2 separate regions of the Homo sapiens genome follow, and region 1 is linked to region 2. The links come from fine-mapping of genetic effects on gene expression. A gene starts in region 2. The other region holds a variant in brackets. All regions are shown on one strand. Distances are between the middles of the regions.

Evidence for each region.
Region 1: its variant is fine-mapped to the expression of BOP1 in tibial artery (GTEx, PIP 0.94).

Annotation. Positions count from the first base shown.
Region 1 is chr8:144,257,176-144,271,428 of GRCh38, reverse strand. It overlaps MROH1 (maestro heat like repeat family member 1), which reads right to left. Exons shown (of 44, transcript NM_032450.3): 36 at 12,515-12,652; 37 at 12,075-12,189; 38 at 11,372-11,518; 39 at 11,055-11,243; 40 at 10,597-10,752; 41 at 10,388-10,522; 42 at 10,213-10,315; 43 at 10,080-10,145; 44 at 9,503-9,774. The coding sequence ends at 9,689. It overlaps BOP1 (BOP1 ribosomal biogenesis factor), which reads left to right. Exons shown (of 16, transcript NM_015201.5): 4 at 6,358-6,512; 5 at 6,598-6,715; 6 at 6,813-6,914; 7 at 6,992-7,204; 8 at 7,287-7,448; 9 at 7,518-7,598; 10 at 7,668-7,737; 11 at 7,819-7,951; 12 at 8,028-8,208; 13 at 8,288-8,576; 14 at 8,757-8,841; 15 at 8,926-9,033; 16 at 9,112-9,384. The coding sequence ends at 9,265. SCX (scleraxis bHLH transcription factor) reads right to left here and starts at 4,976. Exons shown (of 2, transcript NM_001080514.3): 1 at 4,249-4,976; 2 at 2,948-3,325. The coding sequence starts at 4,815. The coding sequence ends at 3,287. It overlaps MIR7112 (microRNA 7112), which reads left to right and starts at 8,692; the gene lies at 8,692-8,756. RefSeq lists enhancers at 1-428, 3,074-3,839, 3,840-4,607 and silencers at 323-492, 4,853-5,042. The variant C/T (reference allele first, on the strand shown) is at 8,252.
Region 2 is chr8:144,283,489-144,299,443 of GRCh38, reverse strand. It overlaps BOP1 (BOP1 ribosomal biogenesis factor), which reads left to right and starts at 8,006. Exons shown (of 16, transcript NM_015201.5): 1 at 8,006-8,172; 2 at 10,140-10,349. The coding sequence starts at 8,074. HSF1 (heat shock transcription factor 1) reads right to left here and starts at 7,840. Exons shown (of 13, transcript NM_005526.4): 1 at 7,570-7,840. The coding sequence starts at 7,686. RefSeq lists enhancers at 7,043-7,102, 6,705-7,361 and silencers at 7,493-7,652, 7,763-8,262.

The DNA.
Region 1 (14,253 bases), 27 kb after region 2:
GGGCGGCTGACCCCACGCTCCCGGGGGACAGGTGGGAGAGGCGGAACGAGGAGAGAGTGAAGGATTCCAGAGGTGGGCCGGCTTCCTCTCTCGCAGACAGACACGGGAGGAGGCGGGCAGCGGGCCAGCCCCATACCTGCAGTTCCAATCTGTGGTCCTGACAGCTGCAGCCACTTTGGGGAGGGGGAGGGAAGGGGGCTCATCGAGAGCGGAAAAATCCCAGCCGACACATCAGCCGGTTGCGGCCTGTGTCCGGTGCAGTCTGGGCTGGGGGCCTGTCCTTGGGGCTGGGCGGCCCCCAGGAGAGCCCTGATGCTGGGTCTGTGTGTGCCCCCGGCCGGCCGGCCGGGGCTCTCCGTGCGGGGCCTGACCCGGAGGGGTCACATGTGTTTCCTGGCAGCCCGCAGGTGCTGCGCTGGGCGGGGCGGGTGGTGGGCGCAGGCGACCGTGATGAATCATGTGTCCCGCCAGCAGCTCGTTCCCCAGGCCGGGGACAGGAGCTGACAGCTGAGGCCCAGCAGAGCGTTTCCAGCCCAGCTCGGCTCGCAGGGGCGGCTGCTGGCCCAGGGTGCAGGCTGGGGCCCCTTCCGTCCCAGCTGCCTCTGTGGGGCACAGGCGGAGGGAGCCCTGGGTCTCTGTGGAGGTGAGGCCAGCACTCTGGGAAGGGAGCCAGGGGCTGTGGTGGGCAGGGAGCACCTGCCACTCGTCTGCCCGGCGGCTGTGAGCTACGAGTGGATTCGGGTGGGCTGCCGCAGGCCTGGGGGTCAGCCCACGCCACCCCCGGTCTGGTTTGAATTTCTGGAGCAGTGGAGGGTGACGGAGTGTTCCTCCCCCGCCCCTCCCCTCTTGCTGGCTGGCGGGCCGGGCCCTCGGCCGCTGCTACCGGTGCAGCTCAGGGAGCGGCTGGGCTGGCTGCCCAGGCCTGAGGCTGGCCAAGCTGCAGCCGCGGTCGGAGTCAGGCCCGCAGCGGAGGGCTTGGCTGTGAGTGCTGCACCCCAACCAGCAGGGCCCTGGGGATCCTTTCAGCTCCGAGGCCTCCAGGTCGTTGTTCCCTGTTCACTTTCTTCTAGCCTCGTTAGACACCCCAAACTCTGACCCCAGTCCACGGGGGCTCTGACGTCTCTTTCCCCTGCACTCCCTCTTGACCCTGCCCAGACCTCCCCATGCTGGCCCGCACCTTCCCACCTGCTCCTGTCTGGCCTCCTGCATTCCCGCTCTGAGCTGGCTCTGCCCTGTCCTTGGTGCCGGCCGCCGACGCCCCGCACCTGCCCGCTCAGGCCAGCAGCCCCTGATGTCCCTGCCCTGGAGACTTTCACTATCTTCCATCCCATTTGTCCCCAACGTTGACCGGCCACTGAGGTTGGGGGTTCATGTGGAGGTTTGCAACCCCCACTAGGCCCAGGTCTGGAAATGGGAGGCCTGGAGGTGAGGGGTAGGTGGGCTATGGACCCTCCCTACAGAACTACACCCAGTGCCCAGTGGAGGGAGGGCTGGCGTGGGCGCCGTGGGCCTTAGGGTGCTATGCAGAGTGCCCGGCCTGGCCATGCTCCTGGGTCCACCCTGCTCCTCACTCACCAGCGCCTTGGTGCCTGGGAGGGTGGCGGGGCGGGGGTGTGAGGAAAGCTCCCAAGAAGGGAAGGGGCTGCGTCAGCCCCTAGCTGCATGTCCGTGTCCCCCGGGCCCTGGCTTCCCGGCGGGCGGAGGCTTCTGCAGTGACTGAGCTTGTCCTCTCCTCCCCTCCCTCTGGCCAGCTGTGGGCTCCTGCAGGATTAGGGAGAGGAAATTTGGGGTTGGGTTTCTCTCTGAACGAAACCTGCCGTTGTGACTTTTTATCCTGTTATATTTCTATCAGATTGGACTCAGCCCCCCTCTAGCCCTTAATGGCTCTGGCTTTGAGAATTTCCTCCAAAATTACACCACTGCTTCCTGCTCCGCCATTCCCTGGAGCCTGTCTTTGCAGAGGAGGGGCAGTCCTGGGCCAGCCCTGCACCGATGCCCACGTGGGCCACAGCACCTGGTCTCCCCCCGAGGGTGCGTCCCTGCCTGTGCTAGCGGGGAACTGGGGCCGGCCGCCGCCCTGACGCCCGCACCTGGCACCATCAGCCATTGTCCACCCAGCCGGAAGTTAGGCTGTGGCCTGGCAGGGTTGGGGGGAGGTGGTCCACACAGCACCGCCCTTCTTCTCTCTGTGCCCACTGATCTCACACCACTCAATGGTAATTGTCACCTGCAGGGTTTTAATGGCCAGCCAGCTGTGCACAGAGCACTGTGGGGGCTAAACCCACCTCCTGTGGTGGGCGGGGTCTTCAGGGGGCTGGATGGGCCGTGGTGGTGGGAGGAGGATGGCCAGGGGTCCTCCTTCCCACGTGGGCAGTGCTTCCAGGGGCCAAGTGGCACTGGTGCATGAGGAGATGCCCCTCTCTCCAGTCAAGGCTCGTGGAGGCAGGACACCCACTGCCCTCGCTGGGGCTGGGAGCCCCCCCCTCCGCTGGGCAGCACAGCTCGCTCCACTCCTTGTGGCCACCTGCAGCGCCCTCCTCACCCTCAGGGCCCCCGGGTGCCCGACAGGCCCGAGTCGGGGGCACCCTTGCCCTGCTGCTGCCTCTGTCCCTGCCGCTGCCTCCCTGTCCCTGCCTTACAGCGTCCCTGCCTTGTGCCTCGCCCTCCCCATCTTCTGCCACGCAGCTCCTCCCCCACCCTCTCTCCCGGCGTGGCTCCCTTGTCCCCACCCCACAGCTTCCCGATATGAGGCTCTGTGGGTGAGCTAAGCCCATCCTCACCGCCTCAGCCCAGGGAGGGGTGGCCCTGAGCCTGGAAAGTGGGGGCTTCCCAGGGAGCCGGGGTACTTGGCCCAAGGAGGATGGGACCACCAAGGGTGGGAATGGAGGCTCAGGCTGGGGGCTGGGGGTGGATTCTGAACCTTTCATGAGGACAGTTGGCCTCCATATTTGGAAGATACTGTTTTGTTTTTAATTATACAAAATTTTCAGACTTTATATTATCATATCAAAAACACAAGATGCCATCACACAGTGGCCGGAAGAAAAGCCAGCGCAGAAAGTTCCAGTGGGCCCGGGCAGGTGCTGGGGCCAGCGCAGAGTCCCGCTGCCGGCGCCTGTCTGTACGTCCGTCTGTCCCTCGGCCCCGCTCGCAGCCAGGGCTGGCCTGGGGGCATGCTTGCGGTGGGCCTTGCCCAGCTCAGGTCCAAGGTGGGGGCTGTCTGCAGTCACCCCGGGCGTCCACCTCCCCCAGCAGCGTCTGCCTCCTGGCTGCTGCCGGCCACCTCCTAACTGCGAATCGCTGTCTTTCTGTCGCGGTCCTTGCTCTGCAGAGGGGAGGGAGGAGTGTCAGGCCCCGGCAGAGCCCAGCGCCAGTCTGCGCCTCTCTGGCCTCCCTGCTGGGTGCCATCTCAGGTGGCCAGCGCCAAGGCACCTCCTTCCCGGCTCTCCCCAGCTTCCCTCAAGCGTTTTGGGGAGGGGAGCATACTGCTGCACAGCCGAAATTGTAAAATTAAATTTCCCAGATGTTCAGGCCCCAGGAGCTCGCGCGTGCTGTCTGGAGAGGAAATGGGGATTGGGAAAAGCCGTGCCGTATTTTCTCCCTGCTCACCCTGCTTTTCCGGTGCCACCAAGCACAGCAGGAGCTGTAAATCACAGCTGGCCAGCGTCTCCTGCAGGGGCCCTCACCCCCAGCCCCCACATCTCCTGCCAGCCTCTGCCTTCGTGTCCCATGGCCCACGTCTCGGGCAGCCCTACAGGACCTGGTGTCTTGGTGTGCGGCCTAGGTGGGGGACGGACAGCAGGTGCCCAAGATGGCTTAAGCCAGTGCTGGGCCGCAGGGGCTAAGAACCCGGGGTCCTTCCTCTCTTGCCTTGCAGCCTCTTACTTTCTGAACTCAGCTGTTTTCACTCCGCCTTTCAACTTACTGAAAAGGGAAGCTTGCAGCGGCCTGGTCCAGCTCCCCAGCCTCCCCGCCCTGGGTGGGCCCCTTTGGCCATCCCTAGCTCTTACCCCTCATGCAGCTCCCTGCAGGGGACTCCACACTCCACTGGGAGCCGAGTGTCCTAGGGACGCCCTGGAGAGGAGCCCCAGGAGAAGGCCCCAGCCCCCGGCAGGCCTGTGTTACAGGTGTGCCTGCCTGTGCCCTGTTGGGGAGCCCTGCCCGTGTGGCCTCGCCTCCTCTGCCTGGCAGGTGTGGGCTGAGGGGCGCGTTGGAGGCCCCCCTCGGCGCCCCACGGCCCGTGCTCACCAACTTTCTCTGGTTGCTGAGGCAGAAGGTGCAGATCTGTTTGGGCTGGGTGTTCTCGCCGTCGCGGGCGGGAGGCGGCGGGGGCGGCGGCGGGGGGCTGCCGGCGCGCGCCGCGTGGAAGAAGGCGGGCCCGGAGTGGCAGGGCTGTCCGTCGCCGCAGGCCTCGCCCGCCAGCAGCACGTTGCCCAGGTGCGAGATGTAGCTGGAGGCCAGGCGCAGCGTCTCAATCTTGGAGAGCTTGCGGTCGGCGGGCTCGGTGGGGATCAGCGTGCGCAGCGCCGTGAAGGCCGTGTTCACGCTGTTGGTGCGGTCTCGCTCGCGCGCGTTCGCCGTGTGCCGCTGCCGGGGCTCACGGCCTGGCCGGCCCCCTGGCCCCCCGCCCCCGGCCCGCCGGCCCCCCGCCCTCCGCCGGGCGCCCTGGAGGCCGCAGCGCGCCGCGTGCACGCGACAGGGTTTCTCGTCGGAGCCCGAGCTGTCGCTGCCGCGGTCCTCGTCCTCCGACAGCGGGCTCACCTCGGGGTACAGGTAGCGGCCCGGCGGCGCCGGGCGCAGCGTGGCGAAGGACATGGGGCCGGCGGGGGCGCGGCGTCAGCTCTGTCGCGCGCTGCTCATGCCGCCTCCTGCGGCCGCCGCGGGCCTCGCGGGCCGGCCGGGGCGAGGCGCGGGGTCTCGGCTGCGCCCCGCGGTGGCAGCTGCCGGGCGTCGCGCGCACATGTGCGTCCCGGGCCGGAGCGGGGCCCCGAGCTGCGCCTTTATAGCGGCGTCCCGGCCCCTCCCCCGCGCACGCCCCGCCCCTCTCAGCCCGGAGGCTCCTCGAGCAGCGCCCGCCGCGTCCCTCGGCCTTCTGTGGCCACGCTTTGGCGGGGGTGGGGGGGGCGGGGCTGGTCTTTGGGGGCATCGTTCCGTCTCTGGGGATGCGGAGGAACTGGGAGGTCGCTTCTGGGCTGTAGTTACTCAGGGCCCCAAAACTGCAGTGCCCCCCGTCCCCGGGAGAGGGGAGGAACCCACCACCCCGTTTTCTCCCGTGGCACAACTGAGTTAACCCAGCCGCCCTGGCCCTGCTGCCTGACCGCACCCTGTCTGTCTTTGCCTCCCATGTGCGCCAGCGCCTGCCTGTGCCAGGCCGTGTGCAGGGGGCGGGCACAGGCGAGTATTTAGGGGCCTAGAGCTCAGTCTCTCCGCCTGTCTGTCCTGCACCTGCCTCTCCAGGCTTGGCACAGACTGTGCCTTCTGCTAGCTGGCCATGTCCCCTGTTCTTGTGCTGTGTGGACCTCTCACCCCGTCGGTCTCCTTGCCCCTTCCTCCTTCCCCCGTTCCTCTCCAGGGCCACCAGGCCCCTCAGGAAGCACACACATACCCCCATTATCCAATTTGGGGATGGCCCCCTATCTCCATGGGGAGGAGAGGGAAGGACCCTCAGCAGGGGGCAGGGCCCAAGGGGTCCCTCCTGCAGCAGGGGGCCCGGCAGGCTCCCAGCTGTGCTCTGTCTTGCCTGGGCCCCTCCCCGTGGCTACTGTTGCAGGAAGCAGCCTCCTGGGCAGCGGTCCCCAGGCTGGAAGGAGCGAGGGTGGCGGCTGGCAGGGGCTGCAACCAGGAATGTACGTCCAGGAACGTGGCTGTTCTGCCTGGGGAGGGGCCGAGGGCAGACGGTGGGGGGTCCCCCACAGAGAGGTCTTGGCTTCTGCCTCTCTGTGGAATGGGTCAGTTGGGGTCTTCCCCGAGTCCCCGTCTTATAGCTGCCCACTTCTGCCTAAGGCCCCTGCCAGGGGAGGGAGCCCGTGGGTGATGAGGTCATCCCTGTCTGTGGCTGCCCAGAGCCCTGGCCAAGGAATCCAGTGAGGGGGGAGCTCTGGGGTTGGCACCACTTCAGTGGAAAATGTGAAGGTGCAGCTCCGGCGCCTCCGAGGGCGGGGGTGGGGGCAGCGTGGCCGCCATGCCACGTCAGACCCCAGGGCTGGGGAACAGGCGTAGGTCAGGGCCAGTGACCTCAGGGCACTTGAGGCTGGGCCTGCACTCCCCCTGCAACCCCCTCACCTGCTCCCCTGGGCGGCCCGAAGCGGGGGTGGGCCTTGTAGGATCAGATGCCGACATGGTGGCCCCCGGCTGCAGGACATCCGGAACACGGTGGGCAACGTGCCCTTGGAGTGGTACGATGACTTCCCCCACGTGGGCTACGACCTGGATGGCAGGCGCATCTACAAGCCCCTGCGGACCCGGGATGAGCTGGACCAGTTCCTGGACAAGATGGACGATCCTGACTACTGGTGAGGGCTGGTGGGGTGGGGCCAGCAGCCGGGGTGGGCCCGAGGGGTGGGGCAGGGCTGGCGGGGTCTGACTGGCGGTCTCCAGGCGCACCGTGCAGGACCCGATGACAGGGCGGGACCTGAGACTGACGGATGAGCAGGTGGCCCTGGTGCGGCGGCTGCAGAGTGGCCAGTTTGGGGATGTGGGCTTCAACCCCTATGAGGTAGGTGGCAGGGGCTGGCCCCTGGGCGGCGGGGGTCCTGGAGGCACCAGCAGGGCCTCAGCCACTCTGGCCCACACGCCCACATCTTCTCCCCCAGCCGGCTGTCGACTTCTTCAGCGGGGACGTCATGATCCACCCGGTGACCAACCGCCCGGCCGACAAGCGCAGCTTCATCCCCTCCCTGGTGGAGAAGGAGAAGGTGGGGCACACAGCCCCTGGGGCTTGGCCTGGGCTGACCGCCCCGCACTGCCCGTCCTGACCCGGCTGTCTATGCAGGTCTCTCGCATGGTGCACGCCATCAAGATGGGCTGGATCCAGCCTCGCCGGCCCCGAGACCCCACCCCCAGCTTCTATGACCTGTGGGCCCAGGAGGACCCCAACGCCGTGCTCGGGCGCCACAAGATGCACGTACCTGCTCCCAAGCTGGCCCTGCCAGGCCACGCCGAGTCGTACAACCCACCCCCTGAATACCTGCTCAGCGAGGAGGAGGTGGGCCTGCATCCTGGGGGCCGGGACCCTGTCCCCATGCTTCCCTGTGACCCTCCCCACCCCTGTGTCTTGGTCTCCACAGCGCTTGGCGTGGGAACAGCAGGAGCCAGGCGAGAGGAAGCTGAGCTTTTTGCCACGCAAGTTCCCGAGCCTGCGGGCCGTGCCTGCCTACGGACGCTTCATCCAGGAACGCTTCGAGCGCTGCCTTGACCTGTACCTGTGCCCACGGCAGCGCAAGATGAGGGTGTGTGGGGGTGGCACACCAGGGGGGTGGCACAGGGGGCAAGGCTGACCTGGCGCTCTCCTGCCCCAGGTGAATGTAGACCCTGAGGACCTCATCCCCAAGCTGCCTCGGCCGAGGGACCTGCAGCCCTTCCCCACGTGCCAGGCCCTGGTAAGTGGAGACTAGGGGGCTGGGGTTGCACCCTCCCAGTCTGACTCCTCACTGCCGCCGCCTCCTCAGGTCTACAGGGGCCACAGTGACCTTGTCCGGTGCCTCAGTGTCTCTCCTGGGGGCCAGTGGCTGGTTTCAGGTGGGTCCGAGCTGGGGGCAGCCTTGAGCTGGGGGGCAGGTGGGATGGCCAGGTGTTGAGAGCTGTCTCTGCCGCATCCAGGCTCTGACGACGGCTCCCTGCGGCTCTGGGAGGTGGCCACTGCCCGCTGTGTGAGGACTGTTCCCGTGGGGGGCGTGGTGAAGAGTGTGGCCTGGAACCCCAGCCCCGCTGTCTGCCTGGTGGCTGCAGCCGTGTAAGTGGAGGCCCTGGGGGCTGGGGAGCCAGGGGTGGCACTGTGCTTAGGGGCCGTGTCTGGGCCTGGCTCACAGGGAGGACTCGGTGCTGCTGCTGAACCCAGCTCTGGGGGACCGGCTGGTGGCGGGCAGCACAGATCAGCTGTTGAGCGCCTTCGTCCCGCCTGAGGAGCCCCCCTTGCAGCCGGCCCGCTGGCTGGAGGCCTCAGAGGAGGAGCGCCAAGTGGGCCTGCGGCTGCGCATCTGCCACGGGAAGGTACGTGGGGCGCCTTGGGGGTGAGGCTGCAGCGGGAGGGGCC[C/T]GGCTCAGCCACTCAGCCAGCCTTGCTCTCCTGCAGCCAGTGACGCAGGTGACCTGGCACGGGCGTGGGGACTACCTGGCCGTGGTGCTGGCCACCCAAGGCCACACCCAGGTGCTGATTCACCAGCTGAGCCGTCGCCGCAGCCAGAGTCCGTTCCGCCGCAGCCACGGACAGGTGCAGCGAGTGGCCTTCCACCCTGCCCGGCCCTTCCTGTTGGTGGCGTCCCAGCGCAGCGTCCGCCTCTACCACCTGCTGCGCCAGGAGCTCACCAAGAAGCTGATGCCCAACTGCAAGTGGGTGTCCAGCCTGGCGGTGCACCCTGCAGGTGAGGGGTGGGGGCGGTGCACCCTGCAGGTGAGGGGTGGGGGGGGGGGCGGTGTACCCTGCAGGTGAGGGGTGGGGGTAGGGGCAGTGCACCCTGCAGGTGAGGGGTGTAGGTGACGGGCAGGGCAGTGCACCCTGCAGGTGAGAGCGGGAACACCTGCATCACAGCCTTTGGCCCTAGGTGACAACGTCATCTGTGGGAGCTACGATAGCAAGCTGGTGTGGTTTGACCTGGATCTTTCCACCAAGCCATACAGGATGCTGAGGTGAGGAAAGCTGGGGGTGGAGGCGGCCAGCAGAGCCCCTCCCTTCAGCCCGAGCCTGCCTTCAACCTGGTTCCCTCCCCCCAGACACCACAAGAAGGCTCTGCGGGCTGTGGCCTTCCACCCGCGGTACCCACTCTTTGCGTCAGGCTCGGACGACGGCAGTGTCATCGTCTGCCATGGCATGGTGTACAAGTGAGTGCTGACCCTGCCTGGCCCCCTCCCCAGGGCAGTGGTGTCTGGCCGTGCCCTGAGCCCTCCTCGTCCCCACAGTGACCTTCTGCAGAACCCCTTGCTGGTGCCCGTCAAGGTGCTGAAGGGACACGTGCTGACCCGAGATCTGGGAGTGCTGGACGTCATCTTCCACCCCACCCAGCCGTGGGTCTTCTCCTCGGGGGCAGACGGGACTGTCCGCCTCTTCACCTAGCTGTTCTGCCTGCCTGGGGCTGGGGTGGTCGTGCTGAAGTCAACAGAGCCTTTACCCTGTGCTGCCTGGTGCTCCCACCTTCTTGAATTGGGGTTGCCAACAAAGCCGCCCCCACCACAGCGCCGAGCCTTCCCCTCACTCAATTTTGCAAAAACAGTGGGGACAACACAGCCAGTCCAGGGCACCCTCTGGCCCATCCCCTAAGAGGCTCAGCATCGCACCCTGTCAGTCACTCGCTGGGAGCAGATGAGTTTATTGGGCACATCCCTCACTGAAGGGCTTGGGTTTGGTCCCCAGCAGTGCCTGTTCTGGGGCCAGGCCCCTCCAGTCGTGTGCCCAGGCTGTGGTCCTCAGGAGGCCCTGTCTTGGAGCTCAGGCACAGGTCTGGGTGCATACTCCTCGCTGGGGGTGCTGGCCGGAGCCTTAGGCGAGCTTCACCAGGCGGCCCAGGGCCTCAGCAGCCCTCGTCCGCACCTCGGGGGCCGGGTCCTTCAGCAGGATCTGGAGCGCTGGGGGTAGAGGAGGGGGGCTGCCTGCGGGCTGTGACCTCGGCATGCCCATGCCTGCGCGTGGGCCACGCTCTCCTGACAGCCTCTGCTGGGAGGCTCAGGAGCCAACGGAAAGATCGTTTTTCCTTTTTTAGTGTTTTTTAAGCTCTTTTGGAACAGTTAAGAAGTTTCCGTGAATTACTAGAGACGATGAGGTCACCAGTGACAGGGAAAAAGTCCTGAAATCCAGGAAAATCACTTAGTCCCTGCGGGTGCCTACAGGGTCAGCAGGGCCCAGCGGAGGGGCCCCGTGGAGGGGTGCTCACCCGCAATGAGCTGGTCCAGGTCCACCTGCGGCTGCTGCCTGGGCTCCGAGTGCAGCACCAGGAACCCTGTGAAGTGGGGGCATCAGGCGGGGCTGCCGGGCGGCGTGGGGGTGGGGCAGGGGGTGGTGCTTACCGGTGAACAGGGGTGCAGCAGCTCGGACGTTCTCCCAGCTGCTCTTGAAGTAGAACAGGCAGGTGGTCAGGAGACGGCCCAGCAGGTCTGGGAAATGGTGCATCTGGGGAGAGGCCTGGTCAGTGCCGCCTGGCCCCGCCCCACCCACCACGCCCCGCCTGGCCCCACCCCTCACCAGGTGCTTGCAGGTGGTGTTGAGGAACTCCCCGAAGTGCAGGGCTCGGCCCTCCTGCAGGTGTTTCTGGAAAGCAGCTGAGAGCTCCTCACATGCCAGATTGGGGCCACACATGCGCAGGGCAAACCTGCAGGCCTAAGGGATGCGGCACTGGGGCCAAGTCCAGTTGAGGCCACCCACCCCATCCCACTCACCCCCTGGCTACTCACGCTGGCCACGGTGGCCTGAGGGTCCTGCAGGTGCAGCAGCAGGGGCGCCAGCCCGCCCACCACCTGGTCCAGGAAGACGTCCTCACAGTCTCCGTGGCAGACCTTGTTAAGGTGCCCAAAGAGGCGGATAGATGCCGTCCGGAACTCCATCTTCTCCTGGGAAGGACATGCAGCATACGTCTCCTCACAGGCTGTGCCCCTGCAGGCCTGCCTGCCTAGCCCCCTGCCATTGATGGGTGCCCTTGCCTGACCCGGGCCAGGAAACACCCCGACGGGTGGGGGCCTTACGGGTGGGGGCTGCCAGGCCCAGCAAAGCAGCAGCCCTGCAGGTCCGCGCTCTCCACGGTCACCTAGCCGAGGTGGGAGACAGGGAGGAGGGTGGGGCTGGGGCTAAAGCTCAGAGTAAGAGGCAGGAAGGGCTGGGGCCCTCTTCCCTCCCCCTGCCCCAACCAGCCTACACTGTCGAAGAAAGGCCGGATGCGGATGGCCACGTGCAGCAGCCCTGAGCGCAGGTCCCAGGACTCCACCAGGTGCACCAGCCTCGCAAGGCCCAGCATGGCCTCCAGGGCCACTGGGCTGTGAGGGTTGTCCCCGTCGTCCAGCCCGCCAATCATGGCTGTGAGGAGCTGGGGGCCGTGGGTTCGCACCTGAGGATACCTTACACTCAGCCTGGGTCCCAGAGTCACCGTCTGCTACCCCACAAGACAGGGTGGCCTCCATGCACAGCCCCCCACCCATGCTGCCTGGGACCCAGAGGGGCTGGTGGCCACCCCACCTTGTCAGGGCAGCCGGAGGCCAGGTTGGCCAGGCCGCGGAGCACCAGCCTCCGCACGCTGGCGCATGTGTCCTTCTGGCGAGCCGCCAGGCTCTCCAGCAGCGAGTCCAAGAGCATGAGGTCGTTGGCCACGTTGCTGTTCAGCAGCTGCAGGCAGAGGTGCTGTGACTTCCCTCTCCCCGCTGACCCCAGGGCTCAACCCACCAGCCCAGGCCCAGAACACCAGAGGCTGTCCCCACGCCGGTGTGGCAGACAGAGGTGGAGCACCTACTCCCTGGGTCTCCGATCAGTGGCGACCCCTCCCTGTTGTGCCGCTGGGGCCTGCTCTGACGCCCGCTGTGCTCTGCTGCACGGCCTTGGGCAAGATTTTGGCATCTTTGGCCACGAAGGCCAAGACCACACCACCAAGGGCACCTGGGGTCCCAGGGGCCAGCCCTGTCCAGCTACAAATGTACCCAGCTGGACTTGGGGAGAGTACAGGCTGCAGGGAGCCTCGGTCCTCCTCTCACCAGGCACAGAGGGGGTGTCCCTGGGTGGGACTGAGTGAGTTCTGGCATGGGGGAGGAGGTAGCTAGCATCCACATAACCTCCCTCACAGACCACGGTCGAGGGGGCCTTTTAGGGGTAAGAAAAGGGCATCCCGTGCCTGTCCTGAGCAGGAGCCCCACCTTGGTGCCCAGCATCCGTCCCTGGAAGGGCCTACCTCGGCCAGGAAGGCGGTGGTGGTCACCCTCTGGTTCTCATACGCACTGCTGTGTGTGCATGCCAGCGTCTTCAGCACCAGGGGGAGTCGGGGCCCTGCGTGCTCAGCCATGGCCCTGGGAAAGGGGGCCGCTGAGGGTGCAGGGGCTGTTGCTGTGCTGAACCCTACCCAGGCACCTTCCACCCTGCACAGCCCTGGTCCGCTCCACCGCCAGCTGCCAGGTTCTGGGAGTTCTATGTTTCAGAGATGCCTCCCAGCTTGCCTCGCCAGGCCTCTGCAGGGGTGCCTCCCTACCCCTGCCCCAGAGAGTGAACAGGCAGGAGCCCAGGGCACCATTGGCCTGACACGCATGGGCCCCCGCCTGATCCTGTCATGTTCTGGGCTCGAGATCCGGTGGAGCCCAGCCAGTGCTGGAGCTGCAGTGGGCTGGGCCCGCTCACCTGGCCAACCTGGTGGCCCCCTCCTCATGCCCCGCCGAGGTCCTGAGCAGTTCCCAGCCTCCCTCCAGGTCCATGCGCTGTACCACATCCTCGCTGCCGCTGCGGAGTAGCATGGACCGCAGGGTGTCCACTGCAGAGCTGCAGGATTGCCAGGGTGCTCAGCTGGTAGGGCACACACGCCTACCTCCCTTCCTGATTAACTCCTCAGGTCTGCACCCAATGCGTGTTGCCCACCTGGTGGCTAGCCCTATCCCTGCCAGAGCCACTCTCCAGGAAGCAGGCTCTGGGCCATCTGCTAGAGGCCCCCCATTTCCCCACCCAAGGCAAGGACGCAGATGTTGGCTTGGAGGTGAGCTAGTAGCAAGGTCAGCCTGTGGCCACCTGGCCACCAGCCTGAGAGCTGGACACAGGCAAAGCCCTCTGGCTGCACCGGCCTTCCTTTCCGGACACCCAGACGCTGCTGGGCACCCACACCACAGGTGCCCCCCACCCCGGGCCTGTTCCTGCCTGGCACCTCGGGTTCTCACACCTGTACCCCAGGAGACTCCACAGCCCTCTGGGAGGCGAGCAGGCCCCTGATCCACTCCCAGTGTCGGCTGAGGCTGGCTGGCAAGTGAGCGGGAGGATGGTGCCGAGAGCTGGAGGGGCTGCTGGCGTGCTGAAGAGCAGGCGCCCTGGGCGTGCAATGGGGGCCACCTTGGCCAACTCTCTGACTCCCCAGACCTCCACCAGGCAAGCACCTTGCCCTCTGGTCTCCCTGGCAGTGGCTGGGCCAGAAACTGGCAGGGAGAGTCTGATGTTGAAGCCTCTACAGGGCCCAGCTTGAGCCTGGCATCGACCATCGGCTCAGATGAGCCCTTCCCTGCTGAGGCTGCTCCACTCCTGGCTGCCAGTGGGTGGGGCGTAGTGTGTGACCCAACAGGCACGGTCTGGGGCAGAGGATGCCCTGCACCAGCGTCCCCACCCAGCAGGACCCTCCATTTCAACTCCACAGCCCCTGCCATGTGGCTTTCCGCTGCCCTCGAGCACCTCACACTTAGGCCCCCGCCGCCTTTGGACCTCTGTCCCCACAAGGCTTCGTCCTCAGGAGCACCTGGCCCAAAAGCAGACAACCCCCGAGCGGCACGGGCCGTGTGGTGACCGCTGGTGGTGGTGACAGTGCCACTGCCCTGGTCACCTCCTGCCAGGTGTCCCACAGGGCCCCTGGTGTGCTGCGACGTGGAGTGGGCCTAGCAGGGAACAAGTGGCCCCGCCAAGCTGGGGGCCAGGCCCTACTCGCCTGGATGGTGTGTGAGGCCCTCATGCAGGTGGGATCTAGGAGGAGGGTGTGGTGGGCACAGGAGCATGAGACAAGCTTGTTAGAGATCTGGTGATGGGCCCCATGAGGCTTCTGGACGGTTGGGTACACAGGGCTGGTGATGCCGGCAGGAATGAGGCGGCCTGAGAGCTGGACAGGGGCTGTAGGAGCTGAGGGCCACGGGGGTCTCGGCAGCCCAGGAAGGAGGTGCTGGGGGCCTGCTCCCAGTATACCACTGTCCCCATGGGGTGTGCCTGGGTGGTCTGGTGCTGACCAACAGCAGGGCCAGCCCCTCACACAGCCCTTGATGAGTGTCCCCAGGCTCCTCTCTCTCACGGGTTCCCTCCCCAAGGTCGGACGTACGAGAAGGCAGCTCTGGAAAAGCCTGGAGTCCCATGGTTCCAGTGTTGGGGCCTGATCTTTGAGCCCAGGTAGCCTGGGT
Region 2 (15,955 bases):
TTTTTTTTAGAAGGAGTCTTGCTCTGTTGCCCAGGCTGAAGTGCAGTGATGCGATCTCGGCTCACTGCAACCTCTGCCTCCCGGGCTCATGTGGTTCTCTTGCCTCAGCCTCCCAAGTAGCTGGGACCACAGGCGCCCATCACCACACATGGCTAATTTTTTGTAGTAGAGACGGCGTTTCACCATATTGGCCAGGCTGGTCTTGAACTCCTGACCTCAGATAATCCGCCTGCTTCGGCCTCCCAAAGTGCTGGGATTACAGGTGTGAGCCACTTCGCCTGGCTTCCTTCTCTCAAGAGTGCTGTGTGTACTCCGTGCTAGCAGGCAGTGGTGTTTCCAGGGCTTGCCTTGCACTTGTTTCCACGGCATTGGAGTGGCCTTTCCTCTGCAGCTTATTCTGCGCCACTTCCAAGCTGTGTTTCCTCTAAGGTGTCATGAAAGCTCCTTGTATTTAAAGTGGCTTCTATACTCTGGCTGGTGGGAACTGAAATAACCACGGCCCTGTGTGAGTCCTGCTCATCTGTCCCCTTACACTTACTCTTCCCCTTCAAGTTGCTCTTGGTCCAGCTCCACGAGGTTTCACTGTGTGCACCAGCAAATCGGATCCAACCCAAGATGCAAGCGGGCTCACGCGCAGATTGCTGGAGCTCTTTGTTTTGGGCGTAACTCCTTCCTTTCTGGTACCACACCCCACACATTCTAGCTGCCTCAGCTGCCCCAAAGTCTGGGTTTGTTGGGTTCTCTGCACGTGAGTCTGCAAATTCCCTCCACATAAAAAGCCTGGACAATTTTGTGGTTTACCTCAGTCCTCGCCGGTTTTTTCTTTTCTTTCTTTTTTTTTTTTTGAGACAGTTTCTCGCTCTGTGGCTGGAGCGCAGCGGCGCAATCTCGGCTCACTGCAACCTCTGTATCCCAGGTTCAAGTGATTCTCCTGCCTCAGCCTCCCGAGTAGCTGGGATTACAGGCACGCACCACCACGCCTGGCTATTTTTTTTTTTTTTGTATTTTTAGTAGAGACGGGGTTTCACCATGTTGGTCAGGCTGGTCTTGAACTGCTGACCTCAGGTGATCCAACCGCCTCAGCCTCCCGAAGTGCTGGGATTACAGCCGTGAGCCACCGTGCCCGGCCCTAGTTTTGTAACGTCTGAACATTTTCAGCGGCTTCTTATGCCTTAAGGGTTAAATCCAAGTTGAACATGTCAGGCAACCCCTACCTTAGGGGCCATTATGAATTTCACAGGGTCTGCTGGTGAACCCATCAGAGAACCCAGTGTCTCTCTCATCTTCCTGCCTCAGTGGAACAAGGTCCCTCCTCTGCTGACCACAGGCACCTCTTGGAGGAGTCACCGGTCATAACTGGATATCACGAAAACCTGCCACTGGAAATGGGAGGCCCCTGGCTGGTGCGAGATGCCACACGCTGAGAAGTGTAGGTGTCAGCAAACCCCGCAGCTTGCAGTAAACTTGGAGCCTGTGGCCTCATTTTCTGCAGCACTGTGAAGGACCTGAAATGTGTGTGAGATCCTGCCTGTAGGGACACCTTACATAGAAAGTGTCTGTGTCTCTGAGTATCTTCTCAAAGGGCTCCCTGGCCCAAAACGTGAACAGTGCCGTATTCTACAAGGTGGCCCCACAGCCCAGGCCACAAGCCTCTTGTTCCAGCCTCCTGCCAAGTCAAAGCTGTATCTGCTGACCGGTGATCTGGGCTCCTGGGCTCGGCTGGCCGGCTGTTCCCTCTCCGGGTCCCGGGAGTATAGGCTTTAGGAGCAAAGGGAGCGCGTGTGTGAGTAGCTGTGGCCCACGTGTGGGGAGCAGGGACCACCGGAGTCAGGGCATGGAAGCAGTGAGGCAGGCAGGAAGCGCGAGCAGGTGCAGACAAAGTGGCTCACTTTGTGGCCCCGTTCCCTGGTCTGGTTCTGTCCACATCTGAGCCACCCGCACCTTTCTCATAAACACTCTTCTTGTTTCCGCTCTGGAGGAGCTTCCAGCGTGTTCTCGCCACACAAGGACCAAGAGCAGCACAATCGCCCTCATCTCTCATCACATCTCGTCACTGGCTGCCGTGCACAAGTGTGGTGGCTACTGCTGCTCACCATGGCCCACAGGGTCACAGGGAGGAGGCTGAGGCAGCAGCAGCCCTTGCTGCCAGGTGCCTTGAGACATTTGGGACCACCTCCTTTCCTTAGACAGCCTCCCCTCCACCTGCCAGACCTTGAGGAGACCCTGGAGCCAACAGCCCTCAATATACCCGATGGGAGCTGCTTGCTTCCTCTGGGAAGGCACTGTGAGCCCCACCGACCCCTCTCCAGCTCGCCCTGCACACAGGCTGACTCCTCCAAAACTGAGAGACTTTCAGGGCCAGGCTGTCCATCCCTGGTCCCTCAATAAAGGACTGAGCAAACACTAGCCTGTGGAGTTGGGTGGGCATGGGGCACCGGAGGCATCTGCCTCCCCCCAGGAGGCCACTGCAGCTCAGCCCTTCTGTGCCCTGGGCCCCTCCTCACCGCACCCCCCCCACCACACCATCCGGGGCAGAGGAAACACAGGAGGCTACAGCACAGAGCCTTTTTAATTTTTTCTGTGCTATGCACAGAAGCTGTATGAGGACAGATGTGTGCCTTCTTTTTTTTTTTTTTTGAGATGGAGTCCCGCTCTGTCACCCAGGCTGGAGTGCAATGGCGCGATCTCAGCTCACTGCAAGCCCCGCCTCCTGGGTTCACGCCGTTCTCCTGCCTCAGCCTCGCAAGTAGCTGGGACTACAGGCACCCACCACCACGTCCAGCTAGTTTTTTGTATTTTTTAATATAGACGGGGTTTCACCATGTTAGCCAGGATGGTCTCAATCTCCTGACCTCCTGATCTCGTGATCCGCCCACCTCAGCCTCCCAAAGTGCTGGGATTACAGGCGTGAGCCACCACGACCAGCCCCAGCTGTGTGCCTTCTTATGGCCACACCAGGAGGCACTATGGTCCGGGCACACATCAGGCCCTCCAGACCCTGCAGCACTTCTCACAGCTGCTGCTGTGGGGCCTCCAGCATCTTGGGCCAAATACCAGATCTTCCAGGGTGGGGCCAGTGGGCCTGCTGGGTCTTGGCGGCTCTCAGAACCAGGGAAGCAGGGGTGGCCCTGCCTGCCGTGGGAGCTCCGGACACGATCTGTGACCAGGGTCTGAGTGACTGAGCGTGGCCAGGTCGGCTCTGCTTCTGCAACTCCTCGTGTGCTTATGAGTGGACGCCCTGCCCTGCCTTACTTCAGGGACCCCTCAGGCCCTGCCCCCTGCCTCACTGCAGGGACCACTCTGCTCCCAATTGTCCACCCAGAGACCCTCCACAGCGGCCACCTGACCACTGGCTTTCAATGGAACTCTCTCCCGCGATAGGCCGAGGGCCTTGGTGACCTCCAGCTCACTCAGTCTCAGGGAGCCCCAGGGTTTCAGCACATCCTTCTAGAGTCTTTCCAGCTGCACCCATGAGGCTGGGGCCAGGTGAAGACAGAGAAGCATCCAGGAGCCCACATCTAAGGAGGCCCCCACTCCCAGCGCCATCCGAATGCAGGTAGGTCTTAAAAAGGAATGCCTCAGGGCCAGGCGCGGTGGCTCAAGCCTGTAATCCCAGCACTTCGGGAGGCTGAGATGGGAGGATGGCTTGAGCCCGTGAGTTCCAGACTAGCTTGGGCAATACGGCGAGACCCTGTCTCTACTAAAACCTTAAAAAGAAAAAAAAAAAAAAGCCAGGTCTGGTGGTGCAAGCCTGTAGTCCCAGTGACTCAGCTGAGGTGACTGGATCACTTGAGCCTGGGAGGCAGAGGCTGCAGCGAGCTGCAATCATAGCCCTGCACTCCAGCCTGGGCAACAGAGCGAGACCTTATCTAAAAAACAAAAAGTGCTTCCTTAAATTTTGCACCCAGGTGCCCCCTCTGGCCTCACCCTGATCCTGAGGCCTCCGTCTACCTGGGTTCGTTCTAACCTGCGTGACCATCATTCTAGCATTTGTCTGGCACAGGTCATGTGGCTGTGCCTTGTTCTCAGGCTCCTCAGCCAGCTGGGTGGCTCCTGGGGCTGTAATCTCACCATCTCAGATGTCGAGATTACTTTTCATACTTCCTTATCTTGTTAATAAAGATGGGACAAAATCATAGCTTGTAAAAAACTGGGATGATGGTGAACCCAGTTCTGAGGCTTCACTTTCTGCTTTTGTTTGGTTCTCCATGCTGTCAAATTCTCTGAAGAGGCTGTTGCCCTCCTGAGTCAGCTGCAGCCCAGCAAGGCCCTAGAAGAGCCTCTGCTGGTGGACAGAGGAGCTGCTGCATGCAGACGAGGAAGCTGGGCTGAGGGCCGGCACCAGGGCACGGGGCAGGGAGGCTGCGGGTCCCGGGTCTCATGGGTCTCAGTTCTATGGAGGTGCCTGTCAGTCCAGGTATTCAGTCCCCCAACCCCGTCTTTGGGTCTCAGTGGTACTGGATCCAGGTGTACCTTTGGGAGAAGCTGTTGAGAAGCTGGCTGAGGGAGGACCACCCACGTGCACGCCCATGCTCTTATGTGGATCCCCGGGATCATAACCTTGTGGCTGACACATTTCCTCTCCAAGGCTGTGCTGTCCTCCACGACTTGCTGGGTCCCCTCAAGGCCCTTGCCTGTGTGGGTGGGGTGCTCATGGGAATGAGGGTCTTGGGAGGGGGGGGTGGGAAATCAAACAACACAGGGATGGGGTAGCTGCCACAGTCCCCACCAATGGGGTCTCCTGGGCAGTGACCCGGCATTCTGCCTCCAGTGGCTGCAGTGGGAGTCCTGATCTCAGGCCAGGGAGGGGACGTGCAATGGTGGTCCAGACCTGGTCCCATTCCTGGCCAGGCTCAGTAAAGTTACTGGCCAGTTTCTGGGCCTCGGTCTCCCCCAGGTTATTCAGCCTTGAGAGTTAGTCACCATGCCTGTGATTCTGCCTCATCTTCTTGTGTCAAATAGGGAGGGTTTTTCTTGGCAGAATGGTGGTAAGACTCTGAGCCAGAAGGAGACTCTCCCAGAGAAGGCAGCAGAGAGCAAGAGCACCAGGGCCTTCTCAAGGCCTCCGAGAGCCAGCTGGGCCTGGGCAGTAGATTTGTGGGAGGGTGCCCTGTTGGGACTCTGCTGACAGGGAGTCCTCAGGGCTTGTGTGAGTGCTCTCAAAGTCACAGGATGGGATGATCACCTCCTTTCTCCAGGCCAGGCAGCCAGCGCCGGAAAGCTCTGCAGCCCCCTGCGCGGCCTGGAGAAGGGCTTCCTTCCAGTTTTAAGTCAGTGTTTCTGTCTCATTGCCATGCTCGCCCCCAGTGCTACGTCCTGCACCAACCATTGCCACTTCATACTGACCAGGTGGAACCAAACACTCACATTCCAGTTGGCTCCCCATCCCTCCCCAGGGAGAACAGATCCACAGGTGGTGCACCTGTGAGTGGAGTGGAGGCTGGCCACGGGCCTCATCACACCTGCCTTCCTTGCTCAAAAGCCCTGCCCAGAACATGCCTCGGTCCCAAAAAAGGGTACACTGGGCCCTAACCCACATGCCTCATAATCTTTAAGCAGAAACAGCAAGCAGATTACGGGACAGGACAGATCACGCTAGTAGGATTAAGCTTAGAATATCCCAGATAATCGCGGATGCCCCTCCCCCAATGGGGGAGTTATTCCCCTTAACTTCTGAGGATTAAGGGGAATAAGAAAAAGAAGAAGGGCTGGGTGCAGTGGCTCACACCAGTAATCCCAGCACTTTGGGAGGCCAAGGCGGGTGGATAACTTGAGGTCAGGAGTTCCAGACCAGCCTGTCCAATGTGGTGAAACCCCGTCTCTACTAAAAATACAACAATCAGCCGGGTGTGGCAGCACGCACCTGTAGTCCTGGCTACTCGGGAGGCTGAGGCAGAATTGCTTGAACCCGGGAGGTGGAGGTCGCAGTGAGCCGAGATCGCACCACTGCACTCCAACCTGGGTGACAGAGCAAGACTCGGTCTAAAAAAAAAAAAAAGAAAAAAGAAAAAGACGGATAAAAGAAGACAGAAACATGGGAGTATTTCCTTTGCACAAGAATCCAAGGTCTAGAATGAAGAGATGGTGAAATGAAGCCAGCCTCCAGGAAGGTGCACTGTGCCTTAATGGGACCTGGGGATGGGAAGGCCAACACAGAGGTGTCAGCGGGACAAACACAAAGTGTTTCTAACAAGAGCAAAGATTTCCAGTCTTCTCTTTATTTCCAAACACTCTGTAGGTAAAGCAGAGCCTCAGTAAACCCAAGAAGCAGAAAACCTGGCCTCCTGCCTGGGGCAGCTTCAGTTTAGACTTTTCTTCATTCCTAACAGCATAAAGAGGCTGTGCAAATGGGAGGCACTCAGCAGAGCCTGAAGAACTCTGGGGTCTTAGCTCCTGGGAGGCCACACATGCTTGGTGGCACCCTGCCGGTCACGGTGCCTCCAAAAGCTCCCAATGATCAGTGGCCTTTCTTTTTTTTCTTTTTTTTCTTAGACAGGGTCTCACTCTTTGCCAGGCTGCAGTGGCGGGATCTTGGTTCAGTGCAACCTCTGCCTCCCAGGTCCAGGGAGTCCTCCTATCTCAGCCTCCCAAGTAGCTAAGACCACAGGCAAGCACCACCACGCCCGGCAAATTTTTTGTATTTTTAGTAGAGCTGGGGTTTTGCCATATTGTCCGGGCTGGTCTCGAACTCCTGGCCTCAAGTGATCCACCCGCCTCCGCCTCCCAAAGTGCTGGGATTACAAGCAAGAGTCACCCCACTCGGCCAGTGTGGCCCTTCTTCAGGTCATCACTTGCCAGCCGCAGGCGGTGGCTCTGCCCCTCACCGGACACGACGTCACAGCCGGGATGTGAACAGCAGATTCTGATCTCCAACTCCAGACAATCACTGATTTACTTCTGCAAACCGGAGCTGTCCGGTCTTGCAGGGTCGGACCATGTAAACAAGCCTGCTGCCAGGCAACTGAAGACAGAAACACGAATAAAGATGCCCCATAAGGAATGAAAAACAAAACTCCTCTTGGGAAACCCAGATTTGGGATTCGGAAACGGGCTTGAGATCAACCTGAAGCTTCATGACGTCTTACTGTTTCCACTGCCTTTCCTGTTCCACTACAGCAACGCCCTCCACTTCACGTGCCAAGTCCTGACTTTCTCCTAATAGTTGCCGACCCAGCACCCCGTAGGCTGTCCCCTGGGGACGCCGATGTCCTCTGGGGCATAGCGTCCGCTGGCGAAGCCGGGTGCTTGCCCTAAGCGCGGACACTTCCGCAACCGCCCAACAGTTAGCAGAAGCCCAATACAAGAGACGCCCCATTCTCCCCATCCCAGGGAAACTTCGCTGGGGCAGGGGTTGAACCGAGTGTGGGTCTCGTAGCCGCTTTCCCAACTTAAGGCTCTGGGTCTGAGCAGGCTCGGGACCCGCCGCCCTTCTCTGGCGGGGGCAGGGCAGGCTCACCGCGCGTAAGCTGAAGTGCGGCAGGGCCCCTCCCCGCAGCCCTCCCGCGCCGTCCGCCGCGGCCCTGCTCCCTCCCGGTCCCCACGGGCCCCGCGCCCGCGCGCTGCCCTCACCGGGCTCCAGCAGATGAGCGCGTCGGTGTCCGGGTCGCTCACGAGGGTCCACAGCTTGGTCAGGAAGGCCGGGACGTTGCTGGGCCCCGCCGCGCCGGGGCCCACGGGCAGATCCATCTCGAGCAAGGAGGGAATAGGCGGAGGGAGCGGCCGCAAAGAGGGGCCGAGGGCCGGGCTAACGCCGTCGCCGCGCCAGCCTTCCGGGCCGCGCCGCCGCCCGCTGCGCACACACAGCCCCGGGGCCCAGCATGGCCGCCGCCATCTTGCAACGGGCGCGCTCCCGCCGCCGCCGCTGCCGCCCTCCCGCGTCACCCCCGGCGCGAGCACGCAGGCCCCGACCCCGCCCTGGTCCCCGGCCCAGCCGCGCGCCTGCGCGTGTTGGTCCCACCCCCTTCCCTCCACCCGCCAATCGGGGCCGGGCTGGGCGGGGCGCGTCCTCCTGCGCACGCGGCCCGGTCGCTGTCGGAAGCGGCTGTGCGGGTGGCGGCCGGCGCGCGGTGGGGCATGGCGGGTTCGCGGGGTGCGGGGCGCACGGCGGCGCCGAGCGTGCGGCCGGAGAAGCGGCGGTCTGAGCCCGAACTGGAGCCTGAGCCCGAGCCGGAGGTGACTGTGGCGATGCGGGGCGGCGGGGCGCGTCCCTAGAGGGCCCGGCGGGCACGTGGCCGCGCTGGGGCGGGTGGGCCCGGCTTCTGTCACCTGGGCGCCCGCGCCCAGTGAATCGGTCTTGGGCGTGGGTGCAGCTCCTCTATCGGGGGGTCTCAGGCAGAGCGGACTGCGGGGTAAAGGACGGCGTCCGGGAAGCAAAGAAACGGGGGAGCGGGGAGTGGGGACGGGGCGCCCCTTGCAGCAGCCTCTCCAGCCGTTCCATTTGTGCATCCTGCCAATAAAAGGGCTCGGCTTGCGCTCCCAGTAAATGCTTAACCTACGTATACGCTAGTTAATTGCGTTTTTATGCTCATGGGATAGACATGAGAATAAGAAAACCTGAATAGAACCCAGTGTCTGCTGCATTTGCTGTATTAGAACTCACTGTTGCTCTCTGCTAGCTCAGCCCTGTCTTGGTTGTGGGGATCATCAAATTGGGTGGTGGAGGGGATGGACAGCCAGCCCCTCACAGCCCCCTCGGCCGCGGCCGCGCTGGGTTGTTGAAACTGCCCCATTGCTTTGTGAAGCGAATTCAACTCATCCTGGCTCCCATGGGCTGAATGGCCCGCAGGCCACTCTAGGCGCCAGGTTCTGCGACTTCCACCCTTGGACTAAACGGTCCTCAGGAGCCAGTTGTTTGCGCCCAGGCCACGGATGCCATTTCCACTAGTTATTGTGATTGTGTAGCCGACTGAATACCAAGACACATCATGACTCTGTGTGAGAGAGGCATTGTGTGAACACTCGGTATGCAATAGCTAATACATGCAGGTCGTACCTTAAGTGAGACTTGTAAACTATTAGGAAAACAGTAAAATCTAGAATTCTGCATTCAACTGCTTCCTTTTTCTTTTCTTTTCCTTTTCTTTCTTTTTTCTTTTTTTTTTTTTTGAGACAGAGCCTGGCTCTGTTGCCCAGGCTAGAGTGCAGTGGTGCAGTCTTGGCTCACTGCAGCTTCCACCTCCTGGCTAACTCAGCCTCCTGAGTAGCTGGGATTAGAGGTGCCCGCCACCACCAGCTAATTTTTGTATTTTTAGTAGAGATGGTTTCACCATGTTGGCCAGGCTGGTCTTGAACTCCTGACCTCAGGTGATCCACCCGCCTCAGCCTCCCAAAGTGTTGGGATTACAGGAGTGAGCCACTGTGCCTGGCCTTCAACTGCTTCCTAAGAGTCTAAGTTCTTGTTCCACCCTTTAAGGCCAGTGAAGGACCCGAACACTGTGTGTGCCGGTGTCACGCAGCCAGCAGGGCTCTGCTCAGAGGCAGCTGTGGTCCTGCTCAGAGAGAGGAGTGGGTGGGTTGGTGCGTGGTTGCGGTTAGAGTCTCTATCATTCCTGTGACTCTTCAGCCAATCCTTTCAATTTACTGATCAATCGTTGGTCCCAATCTGGTTAAATGAGGAGGCGTCTGCTTCAGGTGGTAAAAGCCCTTTGGGGACCCATTTCTCTTCCAGCCCCCAGCCCCTTTTCTAGTGACCTCTTGGCTCTGGGGCCTTGGATGCCAGGGTGAGGTGTGGAGAGGGCTCAGGCAGGCTGTCTGAGGGACCCAGTGGAGTCCAGCCCAGCCTGACCCCACAGGGCCTCCGGAGTGTCAGTGGGTGGTAGAGAGCAGTGTTAGTTTTGCGATGAGAGCTGAGCTCCAAGAGGAGGAGGTTGTCCTTGAAAAGCCCCTTCCCTGTGAGGTGCTAGGAATTAAAATGTCGATGGCAAAGGCAAGAGGCTGTCTTGTCAGTGGAGGTAGAAGATGAGGAAGGCTCAGGTTGGGTGGATGCTTTTGGTGGAAGTTTGTGACTGGAGGGGTGTGGTCCTGGAGGCCACATGGAGCTGCTGGTGGGTGGCTGGAGGGGCGAGAGGCAGCTCTCCCTGCAGTGTTCAGTGCCCCATGCCTGGAGGGGCAGTTGTCACCAACCCAGTGTTTCCTTGCAGCCCCCCCTCCTCTGCACCTCTCCTCTCAGCCACAGCACCGGCAGCGATTCTGGCGTCTCCGACAGCGAGGAAAGTGTGTTCTCAGGCCTGGAAGATTCCGGCAGTGACAGCAGTGAGGATGATGACGAAGGCGACGAGGAGGGAGAGGACGGAGCCCTTGATGACGAGGGCCACAGTGGGATTAAAAAGACCACTGAGGAGCAGGTGCAGGTGGGTGAGCGAGGAGCCCCCTCGAGGGCTGTCCCCCATGTGCAGGTGGCCTTGGGCTTTCTGAGACTGCCACTGTACTGCCTTCTCCACCGTCCCTCAGAACCCCAAGGCCGGCGTCCCTCCTTCACTGCACCTGGGGCACGCTTGGGCTCTAGGACGCTGGTTTCCATCCCCAGTTGCGTGCCGTTCCCAGGAACTCTGAAAATCCACATGCCTAGGCCCTTCCCCGTCAGACGATGCTCGGGCAACCCTCCTGGCAACAGGTTGGGTTTCCTTGAGGTGGGGATTTTACTGCTTGGAATCCAGTGGCAGGACCCAGCTGAGGAGGGAGCTGAGCAGCATGGCAGGGCTCAAGCAGGCGGCATGGGGGCCCCAACGGAACCCAGCTGGGCCTGACCCCACAGGGCTTCAGGGGCCTGAGCAGCCGACGGGTAGAGGGTTTAACATTGTACCTGTTGCAGCGATGGTGGGGGAGGATGCACCCTACTCTTATTGAGAACAACAGGAGAAAAGCATAATTTAACTAAAACACAGCATTTGTTATTTTTTTTTATTTTTTATTTTTTTGAGACAGAGTCTCACTCTGTCGCCCAGGCTGGAGTGCAGTGGTGTGATCTTGGCTCACTGCAACCTCCATCCCCTGGGTTCAAGTAATTCTCCTGCCTCAGCCTCTCTAGTAGCTGGGATTACAGGTACATGCCATCACGCCCGGCTAATTTTTGTACTTTTAGTAGAGACAGGGTTTTGCCGTGTTGGCCAGGCTGGTCTCGATTTCCTGACCTCAGGTGAGCCACCACGCCCGGCCTATTTTTTTTTTTTTTTTCTAAGACAGAGTCTTGCTCTGTTGCCCAGGCTGGAGTGCAGTGGGGCGATCTTGGCTCACTGCATCTTCCACCTCCTGGGTTCAAACAATTCTCCTGTCTCAGCCTCCTGAGTAGCTGGGATTACAGGTGCCCACTACCAGGCTCGGCTAATTTTTTTTTGTATGTTTAGTAGTGACGGGGTTTCACCATGTTGGCCAGGCTGGTCTCGAACTCCTGACCTCAAGTGATCTGCCTGCCTTGGCCTCCCAAAGTGCTGGGATTACAGGTGTGAGCCACCGCGCCCAGCCCAGCATTTGTTACTCTAAACATTCTGGAAATCGTTTGTAAGGATTTACTCTCCCAGTAGTTTCGGTGTTCTGGAAGTTACGGCCTTGGCAGAGGTCCCCGTGATAGAAGCCAAGGAACCATGGCTTGTTCATTGTGTGCTAGCTGTGTTGGGTTGGCTTGTTTGCTGGGAAGAAAAGATTTAAAATCACACTTAATTCAGGCTTTAATTATACCACTAACATACACAGAGAAAAAATGATGTGCTGTGTTGGCAGTGGTTTGTAAGATTATGGACAACTACGTTACCCCTTCTTGAGTTTTTAAAATGATACAATACTGGGCCAGGCACAGTGGCTCATACCTGTAATCCCAGCAGCTCGAGAGGCCAAAGTGGGAGGATCTCCTGAGCCCAGGAATCCAGGTCACAGTGAGCTATGATAGAGCCACTGCACTCCAGCCTGGGTGACAAGCAAGACCCTGTTTCAAAAAAAAATTATGAGATAAAACATCCTGGAAAATAATGTAGATATTGTAGCAGCACCATTCAGTAGGGTGGAAGCTCCCACTCAGGGCCCTCACACCTAACCCGTGAGCACAGTTAGTGGTCTGGTGTACATCTTTCTGGGTCTTCTGTCCCTTTTTAAATTAAGGATTTACACATTTACATGTTAATGATTTTTTTATTAAATTCTTTCAGCGGGCGTGGTGGCTCACGCCTGTAATCCCAGCACTTTGGGAGGCTAAGGTGGATGGATCACCTGAGCTCAGGAGTTCAAGACCAGCCTGGCTAACATGGTGAAACCCTGTCTCTACTAAAAATATAAAAATTAGCTGGGCGTGGTGGCGCGTGCCTGTAATCCCAGCTACTCGGGAGGCTGAGGCGTTAGAATCACTTGAACCTGGGAGGCGGAGGTTGCAGTGAGCCGAGATCTCACCACTGCACTCCAGTCTGGGTGACAGAGTGAGGCTCTGCCTCAAAAACCAAAACAATGTTTTCGCATAATAACATATCCAAGTACTTGAAAGGTACTAGAGGTGTCTGCGGAGTCTAGGGAGGCGCCATCTTCTCTTCTCGCTGCTTGTCTCCTGGCCCCTGGAGCACCAGGTCCTCTGCACTGCTGAGTGTGTGCTTGTCCTGCCCATTGCCCTGCTCGGGTTTCTGTGACCGCGTAACTGGCTGCCCCATGCAGGGTGTTTTCCAAAGTACCGCTGTCTGTGGTCTGTGTGCTCCGTCATCCAGCAGGGCCTGAGGTGGCAAGGCCGGCCGGGCTGGTGGGGCGGTCCTCAGAGTTCCCCACGCTGCTGGCTGCCCAAGTCCCTGCCTGAGGCCCTGCCCTGTTGTGGCGCTCATGCACCTGCCCGCGTGTCCTGTGCTTTAGCTGAGGGGCCGAGGCCCTGCCCTGCCATGGCGCCCGTGCATCTGCCCGCGTGTCCTGTGCTTTAGCTGGGAGGCCGAGGCCCTGCCCTGCCGTGGCGCCCATGCACCTGCCCGCGTGTCCTGTGCTTTAGCTGAGGGGCCGAGGCCCTGCCCTGCCGTGGCGCCCATGCACCTGCCCGCGTGTCCTGTGCTTTAGCTGAGGGGCCGAGGCCCTGCCCTGCCGTGGCGCCCATGCACCTGCCCGCGTGTCCTGTGCTTTAGCTGAGGGGCTGAGGCCCTGCCCTGCCATGGCGCCCGTGCATCTGCCCGCGTGTCCTGTGCTTTAGCTGAGGGGCACCTTGGGCCCTGTCAGGGTGTTTTCAGTTCTAAAGTGTGATCCTCATGACTGGGTTTAAATTCTTCCAGGTCAGGAGAATGAATTGATGAGGTGGGGGTGCTTTCAGCTTCTTAGTGGGAACCCCTCCCTTTTCCCCCCTGTTCATCAGAAGCCACCCAGGCACCTTGGCCTGCTGAGCGGCCACTCCCTCCTGCCTGCCCTCCGCGCCCCTCTTGAATGGTGGGAGTCCTTTCCCATTGTGCAGCCCTGCAGGTGGAAACTCAGCCGGCAGCCCAGTGCTGCCTCCTGCATGTTCTCTTGGCTTCCATGAGCGTGGCCACGTGAGGCCTCCCAGAGTGCCGCCAAGATGGCCCCGTCATGCCCAGTTAGTGGCCTCAGGTTAGGCCTGTTTCTGTGTCATCCCGAAGGCAGTCCAGGGCTCCTTACGCCTGTATCTCCGCCACCTCCCACTCGCATCGTGGGTCCACGGGGCCGGGCCACCAGGGGCTCTGCCAGACACCCTCGCCCGCCACAGCCATCTGGAGGATTCTGCCCCCGATGCCCCTGCCAGTGGTTGTGGGTCCTCAACCCAAGAACCCTTCCGTTGAGCGGCTTCTAGAATCAGTGCCCCTTGGTTCTGGGAATTCACACCACAGTGACACAGCAGCTTCTCCTGCTGCTAAGTGTCCTTGCCCTGCAGTGGGCGCACCTGGGATTCTGTGGTCCTGGCCACGGCCACTCGTGTGGTCTTGCAGATGGTTCATGGGCCTCGGTGGGTTACTTGGTAAGTGAGGGTAATGTCTGCCTGGCAGCCCCTGAAGGACGAGATGATGTTTTTGCTAATTTCTCTTCTGCCACGTGCTTCTGCCTGTCCCCCCACTCCCTCCTGTCGCTGTTTCCTCCACAGTGGTTGGCAAGACGTGGCCCCTGTGGCCTCTGCCTCGTGCATCTGAAGGACATCCCAGCCACAGCATCACATCAGACTGGAACAGTGGCGGGATGGGGCTGGGCATCAGGCAGCATGCATGTGTCATGTCACGGACACCTCAGGGACACACGAAGTCAGGCAGGGCGAGGGCCTCACTCCCCAGGCCGCCTAGCCCTTGGTGGGTATACCCGGCCCCGATGGTGCTGTGAAGAAGGGGCTGTGTGACTGGCATGGGAGGGAGCTGCGGCTTTTGTTCATCTCTGCCATCCTGGCAGCGATGTGGCTGATGGGTCACCTTCAGAGAGCCTCCTCCATAAATCTGATTCCAAGTGTGTGCCCCAAACCAACCCAGACCGGCCCGGGGCGTCCTGCGGAGAGCCCCACAGTGGGAGGCCCTTGTAGCGGGGAGCCCGGTGACTGCTGGGGGTCAGCTGCTGGCGGCCCCTGTGGAGACCTGGCGACCTGCCAAGGGCTCCGGACCTGCCTGGGTGGACCCAGGGTGGGCGTGCTTCTGGCTGCAGGGCCGGGCCACAGGCTTCCCTCTGGCTTTCTGCCCTCAGGCCTTTAGCATTGACATGCACACGACCCTGCCTCCTTTCTAAGGACTGTGTAGAATTACGTGGCATTCAGTGAGCAGCTGCACGTGGTGTTCTAGGGCACCTTTGGATGCTCAGGTGCTCCTGAGGGGTGTGCCAGGGAACGAGTCTCCTACCCTTCCCTCCTGGCTCCTGTTGCTGCATCCAGGCAACTACTGTTTCCAGTGCTGAAGTCTCTTTCCAGGATGTTCTAGACATATCCAAACTCGCACAGAGTTTTTGAATGGTGGTTTCTTAAGAGAAGGGGCAGCCGTGCGCTGTCTCAGGATGGTTCTGTCAGGGAGGCCATGGCTCTGGTTTGTACAGTGCTTGGTGCCCGTAGAGTGCCTGGCAGCTCGGCCTCAACAGCTCCAGTGGGTGGGCAGTTGCAGGCTTTTGCTCTTACAGTTGACCTGACAGTAACATGCTGTTTCTCACATGTGCACACCATTCTTGGGGAAAATTCCAAGAGAATTTCTAGGTCAAAGGATAAATGCTTTTTTTTGTTTGAGACAGGGTCTCACTCTGTCACTCAGGCTGGAGGGCAGTGGTGCGATGTTGGCTCACCAAAATCTCAACTTCCTGGGCTCAAGGGATCCTCCTACCTCAGCCTCCCTGGTAGCTGGGACTACAGGGTCCCCGCCACCATGCCTGGCTAGTTTTGTTTTGTTTTGTTTTGTTTTGTTTTTTGAGACAGAGTCTCGCTCTGTCGCCCAGGCTGGAGTACGGTGGTGCAATCTCGGCTCACTGCAACCTCCACCTCCTGGGTTCAAGTGATTCTCCCGCCTCAGCCTCCTGAGTAGCCGGGATTACAGGCGCCCGTCATCACGCCCGGCTAATGTCTGTATTTTTAGGAGAGACGGGTTTCACCATGTTGGCTGAGCTGGTCTCGAACTCCTGACCTCAGGTAATCCACCTGTCTTGGCCTCCTGAAGTGCTGGGATGACAGGCGTGAGCCGCCGCACCTGGCCATCAATGCATTTAATTGTGAAGGTGCTTGGAGCGTCCCTCCGCTAGGCGGTGATGCCATGCACTACTGCAGCCGCCCCTCAGCTGCTTTCCCACCACCAGCCTCCCTCATGGTGTTGCTGCTTCATCTTTTCCTCTTGTTTAGTGATGTTTTTCTTTCATTAAGAATGAGGCTCGCACAGCTGGGCTTAACTGAAAAAATAAAAATAAAAAGAATGAGTCACAGGCTGGGCCCAGTGGCTCACACCTGTAATCCCAGCACTTTGGGAGGCCAAGGCAGGTGGATCTCTTGAGCCCAGGAGTTCAAGACCAGCCTGTGCCATATAATGAGACCCCATTTTTACAGAAA